Homo sapiens: one gene and its partners. The protein of the gene in region 2 purifies or fractionates together with the protein of the main gene of each other region. This does not show direct contact. Each region holds a gene or a part of one and is shown on either strand. Other genes may lie near its edges.

Region 1 (3,749 bases), on a different chromosome or scaffold from region 2:
GCCTCCGGACTCGTCTTGTCTAACTGAAACTCTGCTCACTGAATAGGAACTCCCATGCCCTCCCCAAGCCCCCGGTAACCACCATTTTTACTGCTTTTTAATGTTTAAAAAGGAAGGATGAACGGGCTAGGGGAAGTGTAGCAATGTAAAACCTACTTCCTTCCATTTTCAAAAACCCGGCGAGTCCTCCTGGTTGCGGCAGCTGAGAGGGAAGCGGAGGGGATGACCCGGGCGCTGGGGCCTGCAGGCCCTGTGTAGGGCACCGAGCTGGCCTCCACCCAAGGAAAGCAGGGGACACGCTTGGACACGCACAGAACTCTTGGCTGCCTGCAGGGCTCTGGGCAGAGGACAGCCCCCTTGTCTGGGAGGCTGTAATTCCGAGGCCAGGGCTGCCTTCCCAATCACCTCAGGCAAGCAAATGAGGCAATGAGAGAGGGGACAAAGGCCCTGAGTGTCCCGCCTGTCACCATCAGAATGCAATGCGTGCCCCGCCAGTGTCCAGCTACTCCTCAGTCTGCTCTCCCAGCCACCGGCTCAGCCCCAAACCCAGGGTCATCCTGCTGGATGGTTCACAGCGGCCCTTGGGGAGGGCGTCCACACATCAGGGTCCTAGACGACCCTGCTCTCAGCCCCACTGACTCCACCACCCTCCTCACCCAACTCCCTGGGTCCATCAAAAAGACAGACTTTTCAAGCTTCGGTCAGTTAAGAATCAAACTCCATGTCACGACACATGTCACCACACACTGCCAGGGATGGACCTTCCAGCCTTCACCACCAGGGATGGGCCCGGGCTACACTTCCAGCCTGCGCCTGCACCGGGGTAGGGGTGCCCTCCGCGACACAGCGCCAGGGACGGGCCCGGGCTACGCCTCCAGCCTGTGCCTGCACCGGGGTAGGGGTGCCCTCCGCGACACACTGCCAGGGATGGGCCCGGGCTACGCCTCCAGCCTGCGCCTGCACCGGGGTAGGGGTGCCCTCCGCGACACACCGCCAGGGATGGGCCCGGGCTACGCCTCCAGCCTGCGCCTGCACCGGGGTAGGGGTGCCCTCCGCGACACACCGCCAGGGATGGGCCCGGGCTACGCCTCCAGCCTGCGCCTGCACCGGGGTAGGGGTGCCCTCCACGGCCACATGGGCAGCCCCCGCACTGCACTGAAGAGTGCTCCACTGTACACCAGGGTGACTTCATCTCAGTGACATCTGCAAAGAGCCATTTCCAAGTAAGGTCGGGTCCACAGGTACGAGGTGGACATGAATTTTGGGGGAGGACACTATTACCCAGCACACGCCCAACTTACAGATGCAGGAACCAAGGCCCGTCTACACACTGAGCATAGCTCCAGGCTGCACCTCAGGCCAGACCCGGGTCTCCCGACACCGCCCACCTGCGTCTCACCTGCACCTTCCGTCCTGCGTGCTGCAGCCGCGCATCCCCAACCAGACGGCCCCTGCCCTCCCCACTTCTAGCTGCCCATCCCCACCCCCTCCACGGTCCCTGGAGGAAGCCCAGCTCCTCAGCCTGCAGCCCAGCCGCTCTCCCCAGGACCAGCCCCTCCACCTGCACCTACAGGCCCACCCCTGGCAGCCCAGGGCCCCTGCAACTCCGAGCCATGCGGCCCTCTCAGATCGGCCTCCTCCCTCTCGGATGGGCCTCCCTCCCTCTCAGATCGGCCTCCCTTCCTCTCGTCCTGTCAGGTTCTGAGGGGCTTCCTGGGAGGCTCCTCCTCTTGCCGGCCCTCCTGACCAGGCCAGGTTCTCAGGAGGCCTCCACCCTTCCTCACTGGACCCCTGGCCCCGGGCTGCGCAGGTGCTTTACCGGTGGGGTCTGGCCTGCACCCGGCCTTGGGAGGGAGCCTGCCTTTCAAGATCAAGATGGCTCCAGAAGAGCACGTGGTAGCTGGGACCACTGCCCCAGAGAGTAGCAGCTTTTCCCAAGGCTGGGGCTTCCACTCAGATGGGCCCTACCATGTCCCCCTGCCCCCTGCCCCCTGCCCCCTACCTCCGTCTGTCTCAGATACATCCAGAAACACTCTTTCACTGTGGCTCCTTCAGGTCCTGGCCCAGAACCAGGATGTGCTACGAGGACCCAGGAACCATAGCCTCCAAGCCGCCCAACACCAGCAGGCACGGAGAGGGTGGTGTCTGCTGCCCTGGAGCCTGGAGGACTCCAGTCCTGTGCACCAGAGCAGGGCAGCAGGGCTCACCACGGCTGTCCAGGTTCTCCCAGGATCCCCCAGGCTCAGGGCGGCGCCCGGCCAGGCTCCAGGCCCTCTCTGCAAGCAGGACGGAATTGGGCCAGCCAGCCCTGGAACACAAAAGCATGCTGCTCTGGAAACCGCTGAATTGCTTCTGGACACACAAAGGCAACAGTGTCTAGGGAACCCTGGACTCAGAAACCGCAAAGGACTTTATTTCCCCTTCCCCAGCCCAAGATTTAAAAAAAAAAAAGTGGTTCCTGGTCTCTGGCGCTTGCCCTGAGCCGTGTCTCCTTCACACCATCTCCCCTGCTAAAGTTCCTCTCCGAGTTCTGGGTCCCTGGATCACAGCTGACCTCCACATCAGGGCCCGGCTGCTGGCACGCCCTTCATCCCCTTATTATCTGGCGGCTCTCCTGCTGATCCTGGGATAAACAGCATCCGCTTTCCCACAGCCGCCAGCCCTCCTAAGCAATGTCCCTGGGGGACTCGCAGATGTTGAGCGACACAGACACACCTCCCCCACCCCCACTGCAGTGGGCCCCAGCCCCCACCTGGCCCTCCTCCAAGTCTCAGTCCTCTAGGGAAGGTAGCCCCTAAACCTCACTGTCAGAAAGGCCTGGATGGAGGTTAGACCAGCAGCTGGACAGCCAACCTGGGCAGCTGAAGAGGACGTGAGGATGGGGCAGCTGGCAGACTCCAGGGCTTTGCAGAGTGAACAGGAGGACCGGGGGCGGCCAGCAAAGAAGGCCTGGTTCTACCAATACCCCATCGCCAGCCAGGCACCAGGGCTCAGGCCTGTAATCCCAGCACTTTGAGAGGCTGAGGTGGGCAATGCAGTGACACAGAAAGTGAAATAAGAACATGAGCCAGCGTGGTGGTACGTGCCTACAGTCCCAGTTGCTCAGAAGGTTGAGGCAGGAGGATCGCCTGGGAACCTGGGAGTTTGAGGCTGCGGTGAACCACGATCGTACCACTGCACTCCAGCCTGGGTGAGGGCCAGACCTTGTCTCTAAGAACAAAACAAAAACATCCACCCCAATGTCCCCATGCTTACAGCCACATACTTGCACCTCCCTAACTCCTGATGCAAAGAGGCCCAAGGACCCAGCACACACACAGCTCCCTGGGCCCTCTGGGGTCCTGAGACTGCAGATCCTGCCCTTCCAGCCCGTGCCCGACCTTGGCCACTATTGTTCCAACATCAGCCTCAAGAGGTCGGCTCACAACTGATGACATGTGTGCTGCCCCAAACTCAAGGCTTGTCCAGGAGTTTCATCCCCTCCCTGGATTCAGGCCTCAGTCCTGCCAGCTGGGCACAGTCAGGCGGCCTCAAATGCTGATGTCCGTATCCGGGTGTTTGGCTGCTCTCAACCCTGCCCCCTGACCTGGCCTCCCTGCAGGCTCCAAGCCGGACAGCTCACCAGTATCTCAACTATGCCACGCCTGGCACAGACTCGGGTCTCAAGGGGCACTCTGACTGGATGGCACCGTGTCCACCAGCTGTCTGGGTGAAACCCTCAAGAGCCCTTGATAGCCCCGTTCCTCACT
Region 2 (3,649 bases):
CCTTTGTATATCCATTGTTGATCCCACTCTCCCTTCTCCAGGAGTAACCACTTTTTCGAATATGGTGTCTGTCATTATGGACATGTTTCTTTTTTACAGCAGAGTGGGTAGCAAATGTCTATGCCATGTTGGTATTCCCAGATCAGCTCTAGTCTTTGACTGTGTCACAGCAAAAATGATCCTGTTAATCAGAGTTGATTCTGCCCCTTCTCTATAGATCTCTCTGGTAAATGTGGAGGAACTATATCCTAAAGCCTTGAGTTAGTCTATTAATAAACTGGTTTTTAAAATTCATTAAAGAGAAACAGCTTATTGAGAATTAATAGACTTAAATTTTTTTTAAGAATGAATTGTTTCTAATATGATAGTTCTAATAAAGCACTATTGTACTGTAAAAGTGAAAAAGTAAGTGTGAAGGAGGAAATGTTTTTCTAAGGCTTTCACTAGGGTTAGGGCGGTAGGTTACCACAGAGGGATCGGGACATATGAGTTAAAGGGATCCAAATCATTTAAGAAGCCTTTCAGAGCATCAGTTTTGGTGCCTTCTGGCCCCTTGACTCAGGTGTTGGTAGGGAGTCTACTCAACTATGAAGTTTCTTTAAAGCATATGAACCCCAGCAGTTCCCAAACTTTGTGACCTCAGGGCCCCTTCACACTCTCCAATATTATTGAAGACCTGAAAGAGTTTTTGTTTATGTGGGTTATATCTGTTGATGTTTATGTGAAAAATTAATACTGAGAAACTTGTATTCATTTATTTATTAATTCATTAAATAACAACACATTCTACCTTAACATAGATCACTTTTTTTTAATGAAAAGTAACCTTTCCTAATGAAAAATTTACCGACACAAGAGATTGTTTTAAATTTTTCATTTTTAAAAATGTCTGGTTTAATAGAAGACAGCTGAATTTTCATATTTGCTTCTGTGTTCAGTCTTTTGGAGTATCACACATCATACAGCCTTTGCACTTGTGAAAGAATTTAAGTATGAAATCCAGATAATGTTTTAGTATTGTCCTGAAAATGGTTTTGGCTTTACAGATTCTCCAATGTAAAGTAATTCTTTAAAATGAAATACATACTAAAACTAAAATTAATTTTATTATGTATAATTTGAAGGAATATTTAACAATGGAAAGAATTTGATAAATATTTATTTCCCAAATGTGTGTTTCTTTCACCAAGTCTTTTATGCTGTGTAAGAAATAAATAGTCAGTCTGCAGTTGCTATGTCTGCATTCTTCTTTATCTAAGTCAAATGAATAGAGGAAAAAATAATCCTTAGTTTTGAGAGCAAGGATTCTTTCTCTTTACCCTCCCTTTTAGTGTTACGTTAGATTTTTGGTTAGTTACGCATTTTTTAAGATTACCAGTGTGGTATAAGTTCAGCATTTGTCCTTAGACATCATGTTTTAGTTATCAGTCATTATGTACTATAAAATATTTATTAAATATTACTTGTAACAATTATTTCCTTTTAAAGCATCAGAATTTTGAAGAACAAATGCAAGGCATGAAGACCCAGCTAATTCAGCTGAGTACCTTACTTCGATTGTTAGACAGTGGATTTTGCAGTTACTTAGGTAAGTTTAGTGAATCAGAACTATACCCAGCAAATTGTAGAGTAATGCATAGAAAAAAATGTAAAGAACTCTTTAAAGAAGCCAGGTGCAGTGGCTCATGCCTATAATCCCAGCACTTTGGAAGCCAAGGAGGGAGGATTACTTGCACCCAGGAGTTTGAGACTAGCCTGGCTAGCACAGTGAGACCCCATCTCTACAAGGAAAAAAAAATGCTGGCTGTGGTGATGCATGCCTGTAGTCCCAGCCACTCAAGAGGCTGAGGTGGGAGGATTACTTGAGCCGAGGAGGTTGAGGCTACAGTGAACTGGGATCACTCCACTGCACTCCGACCTGGGTGACATAGCAAGACACTGTCTCAATAAAAAAGAACTTAAAGACATATATACTCTATTGCACTTTCTTCGGTTCCATAAAAATGTGGAACCAAACTCTCTTTGTATAATTCTGCCTTAAACTTGATTCGTAAAATGTATTATTTGTTAGTTTTTAAAAAGAAGTCAGCCTTCAAGTTTGAAATGATTCCTTAACGTAGAAGACAAATGTATAGGGCCTTGAATTGCCTAAGATGCATAGGAAAGTTAGAGAAAAGTAACTGTATTCTGACATAATTAGCATAAGAGTAAGTCATATGTGTGTTTTTTTCTTCTGCATAGAATCTCAGGACTCTGGATACCTTTATTTTTGCTTCAGGTGGCTTTTAATCAGATTCAAAAGGGAATTTAGTTTTCTAGATATTCTTCGATTATGGGAGGTAAGTCCTTAAATTATTATGCAAATGTGATATTTATTATGAAAAGAAACAATTTATTCTGTAGAGTGTAAATGAATTATGATAGCCTTACTGAAATATCTAAGGCAAGTATGTTCCAAAATTCTGATGAACTGGTAGCCTCTTCTTAAAAATTAGTTTCACACTGAATATTTGGTCTTTTGGAGCTTCGTTCTTCAAATCACAATCTCTGTGAGATTTGGGGCCAAGAGGTATCCCAGAACAAGTGCTCTAGACCATTTGCTGCCTTTGTTCTTCCTTTGTGAGACTTGACTTTATGTGAGGCTTTGCCACATCTGTTATAGAGGATATTCTTATGTTTTTGGTGTACTCCTTTTGTTCCATTTTTTACCCAAGGCAACTCTTTATTTTTTCAACTTTTATTTTAGGTTCAGGGAGTACATGTGCAGGTTTGTTACATAGGTAAATTGCATGTTGCTGAGGTTTGGTGTGTGAATGATTCCATCACCCAGGTAGTGAGCATAGTACCCAATAGGTAATTTTACATCCCATGTTTCCCTTACACCATCCCCCCATGTGTAATCCCCAGTGTTTATTTTTCCATGGCAACCTTTAATGAAAAACCAAATCATTTCACATTTTCTAAAGTATTTGCTAATAATAAATCAGTGTGCTTTTTTTTTTTTTTTTTTTAAAGAGAAGGGGTCTTGCTATGTTACCTAGACTGATCTCGAACTCCTGGACTCAAGTAATCCTCTTGCCTCAGCTTTATAAGTAGCTGGGACTACAGGTCTACAGGTGTATGCCACTGTGTCCAGCCCAGTGTGCTTGTTCATAGAATGCTGGTATAATGATTGATCATACCTTAGGATAACAGAAATTCTTCCAAGGAAAGAATTGGGAGATAATCCATTTTGATTGTAAATCCAACTTTATACAGTGGAACTCTAGTGGTCTCTGAGGTTTTTACAGCTGGAAATGGATTCCTATACTATTGATGGCTGTGCTACCATTAGACAAGGCATTGTGCTGATTACAAGTTAAAAGTGGATTACTTTATGCTCACTTCCTCTGTTCTCAGATTAGAAGTAAAACCCACATGGTCTCTATCTGGAATCGTACTTAAATGTTTATCAGTTTTGTTAAATTAGTGTCTTAATTTGGGGGTTAAAAATGGGTTAATGTATTTATGCCTAGTGTTCCATTATTGGAACGCTAAGCATGTGGGAGTTGTTTATATCCTACTGCTCAAGGTCATCACCAAGGTCTGATTGAAAAATTCAAAAAATTGCATCCTCAGGCATAAATGGGTTTTAAAGGATGAATTAAGA
Region 3 (3,749 bases), on a different chromosome or scaffold from region 2:
CAGAAAAAAAAAGTTATCATGTCTACACCAGCATACAATAACCACGTACTTGTACTTTTAAAATAACAAAAAGATAATCATACCATGTAGGCTGTTCCACATCTTGCTTCTTTTCACTTAGTAACACATATTAGCTTTCATAGGAGCAATAGACTTACCATCCATTATAAGGGCACACTGTAATTTACTATACCAGTCCACTACTAATAGACATGGGTTTTTCAAGATTTCTACTATTACAAGCAATACTTCAATAAACATCTTTACACATATGAGATTCAAATTTTAAAATTTAATTCATTTGGCATTGATTGATCATCTGTTCTGTGCTAGGCATTTGTATGGTTAATCTGATTAAGCAGTATGGACTTTTACATAAAATTCCAAGAAAAAATAGATATCAAATTATCTGCCCAAACTATAAGCTGCTGATAGATGGTTTTCAGTTAATAATTCTCTGTTAGAGCATCCAGAGTATAACATATGCTAGAGAAATTGGCATAAACACAAATCCCTTCTCCCTCATTACGTCCCACACTCACCTTATAGTTGTTCCAGTACAGTGTATCTTGGGTGATTTTTTCACCAAGTATAGGATATGTCTGAATAGCTACAGGCTTATAACCAGCCATAATTCCATATAATTGCACTATTGTCCAAGAGTCACTATTTTGGAATTGGTATTAGAAATAATTACAGTGACTCTGCCTTAATTCTGAAAAATAAAATATTTTATATACATATTATAAGCTTGTACACATAGTTGATTTTCACTCTGCTTTCTTTAAAAAGTCTGTGTGGAAGTATATAGATTAGAGACCAATAAGCCATTTAATTCTAACCCAGAAAAGGCAATCTATAGGAAGCAGGAATAATTAAAGTGAAGGCTATCATATCGCACCATCTATTCAGCTGTACACAAAGGTTCTCACACCTAGCCAACCATTTTACAACACTTAGGAATAAATCTAGCACAGCCTTACAGTAGCCAAACCAAAAAGGATCATGCTGGCTTTGAGTGTCCATTTTTTGGCAACAGGAAATATTAAGGTGAAACTGCAAATACAAGTTTCCTGAAACCAAGTTTAAGATGACATTTAATCTATAACAATTATAGTTACGGATTTGATTTCCTGAAAGCCTAAAAATGCCAAGAAGTAAGAAACACAAAGCTAATATTCTAATGTAGAAGCTTAAAATTAAATTTACTTTAAAAGGTTTAAACAGTAGGAAAGAAAACTGTAATAAAGCAGTCCTGAAATTAAATTCAACACTAAAGTGGCAGAATAGGATAAAACTTTTAAATAACATGCAATCAAGCCAAAACATTTTTCCAGAACGACTCAATTGCAAAAGAGATTCAATGTTATCAGGTAAATGATTCCAGAGGTGCTGCTCATCATCTATTCCAAAAAGCCTGAAAACTTTACATTAGTAACACCACGATAAATAGGTGTAACATATATTTAAAAGGTGCTTTAATGAAATACAATGACCAATGATTGTATTTCACTGGTCTTTGGGAACACTCTTCTGTTCATTAAAGTACCTACCAATGTGCAGGACACTGCTCTAGGCACTGGGGCTATAATGGTGAATGAAATAAAGACATGGTCTGTGCCTTTGCTTACTCCAATATACTCCATTTTGGCTGGTGACTGGCACCAGATATTAACCTAGACTCAGCCTTGACGTGTCCTTTTCTTCCTCACTCCTAACATCCAAATAGTTAACAAGATCTGCTGATTTTATCTCCCAAATATTTTAAAACTCCATTAGGTTCACTTCACCTGAGGGAGCCTCGTAAGCAAAGGCAAAGATGGAAATGTGTCCATTGCCTTGGAGAGTTGCTGATTACTCCGGGAACTAACAACGGTGGACAGGAAAGGGTGTAATCGCAGAGAAGAACCTAGGTCGAAGCTTAATTGAGGGGAACTTGAGCCGGTTAAAGAATTTGGCCACTCTCCTATATAGCCTGGGAAGCCCCAGAAGAGCATGCCAGATTAACACAGGAAGGCCGGGTGTGAGTGTGGGCTTCCCTCAATGGGAGCCGCCTTCACCTACCTCCACTGAGCCCCAAAGGGTCCGACGAGACACCTCGACCCAAGGACAATTAATCGGACTGTGCCAGCTCCCTACCCTGCACAGTTCAGCAGCACTGGCGTAAAAATCACATGGACCCTCAAGGAGCCGGCGACACACACAGCGAACCGAACGTCGCGCGAAGATGACGTACCAGAGCACGCTCATGAGACTCACGCAGCCCGGCGGCGCAGAGGCGGGTCAGGTGGGCGGGGCGATCTGGAGTAGGAGGTGTGACCGGAGGGCGAAATTGGGGCTTCCTCTGCTCTGGTGACCCAGAACCGTCAACTGAAATGACCCTGTCTGTGTAGTACTCCGGCAGGATGGGCCTCGGAGCGTAAAGGCGGCAAAAACAAAAATATTAAAAAAAAGGAGAGAGGGACAAAAAAAAGAAAACCCGAAAGTTTCAGCTGCATTGCTGCGGAACGTTTTTTAGCCAGAAGGCGAAAGAAGAAATCGGAAGTGACGTCGCGGCCAAAACAAGCCCGGGCTTGGAGGCCTGTACTGAAGCTGGCCTCAGATGGGAAGGCCCGACTCGCTGTCTGCTGTCGTCGGTGGTCGCGAGACCTTGCACTCTCACCGGGTCGGCCTCCAGCCCCTGTGCCCGGGATCCGCTCGCCGCGGATGAGCGAGAGTTTCTTCCTGGGACTTTTCGGGCACAGCTGGCCGGTGGCGACAGAACGGACTTTCTTTCCTGCAAGAGTCTCCCCTCCAGCGGGAGACAGCGGGCTCCTGTCTCGGGACGCTGGGACACCTGTCGCCTGTGAGGCATCATTTATTTTCATAGCACCTTCCTCTCCTTGTAGAATAATTCCAGGATCAGGAAGAAACGAGGGGCTCCTGTTATTAGCATCCACAGGAACTAGCATAGCTGCCCACTTTATCTCCGTAGACTCTCTATCCCTTCATCCCTGGGCTCTGACAGATCGAGGTGAACCTAGCTATCGATTGCCTTACCCCCTTTTTCTCACCACCACCTCTTCTAAGTCCTGTTACCCCACTCCCCTCACCCCCGCCTCCCTCTCCTGTTCTTCAAAATTTTGGCCTACCAATCAACTTTGCTTCTCCTCTCGTTAAACTGCTGTGCCAAGATAAGCGTTCATTTTCCACCCACCCCCTTCGCCTAAGCACATTTGCTATTCTCCTCTCGAAGACCTGTAATTCCATCTATAAACCCTGATTTGTAACATGGAAGCTGTTTAGAGCTGGAAAGAATATTAGAAAGGCCTATTTCAACACCTTTTTATAATAGATGAATTTCAGAAAACTTGTATTATTTATTTGTCCAGGAGTGGCCAGCTAGTTAGTAGCGATGTTGGGAGTGGAAAGCCAGGTCTAATCAGCAAATGTTAGAAATAGAAAAGAATATGGAAAAAATTGTTAAAGTTAAGATCAGAAAACATTTATGGAGCACCTGGTAGGACCAAGTACTGTTCTGTGTGCAAAAATTAGTAAGAGTGGTCCCCATCCTAGGGGAGTTTTCAATTTAGCTGTTATTTAAATGGAAATTGTCAAAAGGATGGTGAATGCTAAAATACAGATACATGCAGGGTGCTCAGAGAGCTTAGGGGAGTTGCACTTAGCCAACCGCTGGATAGGAGAAAGGGGGAGATGGTTCTTCCCTCAGGAAACACAGTTCACATTGTCCAGTCCCTTTTAAGACGCAT

What was found.
Region 1: the proteins of TBC1D15 (region 2) and GRAMD4 purify together in Homo sapiens (co-immunoprecipitation; 3 studies listed by BioGRID and IntAct, with this or other methods). This does not show direct contact.
Region 3: the proteins of TBC1D15 (region 2) and UTP15 purify together in Homo sapiens (co-immunoprecipitation; 3 studies listed by BioGRID and IntAct, with this or other methods). This does not show direct contact.

Annotation. Positions count from the first base shown.
Region 1 is NC_000022.11:46,618,819-46,622,567, reverse strand, and holds the start of GRAMD4 (GRAM domain-containing protein 4), read right to left. Parts: upstream 2,183-3,749; 5' UTR 2,003-2,182; intron 1-2,002. UniProt on the Homo sapiens protein: Plays a role as a mediator of E2F1-induced apoptosis in the absence of p53/TP53. Plays a role as a mediator of E2F1-induced apoptosis in the absence of p53/TP53. Inhibits TLR9 response to nucelic acids and regulates TLR9-mediated innate immune response.
Region 2 is NC_000012.12:71,916,210-71,919,858, forward strand, and holds part of TBC1D15 (TBC1 domain family member 15), read left to right. Parts: intron 1-1,488; coding exon 1,489-1,588; intron 1,589-2,241; coding exon 2,242-2,339; intron 2,340-3,649. UniProt on the Homo sapiens protein: Acts as a GTPase activating protein for RAB7A. Does not act on RAB4, RAB5 or RAB6.
Region 3 is NC_000005.10:73,564,228-73,567,976, reverse strand, and holds the start of UTP15 (U3 small nucleolar RNA-associated protein 15 homolog), read right to left. Parts: upstream 2,235-3,749; 5' UTR 2,065-2,234; exon of another isoform or gene 1,791-2,064; intron 716-1,790; 5' UTR 633-715; coding exon 543-632; intron 1-542. UniProt on the Homo sapiens protein: Ribosome biogenesis factor. Involved in nucleolar processing of pre-18S ribosomal RNA. Required for optimal pre-ribosomal RNA transcription by RNA polymerase I.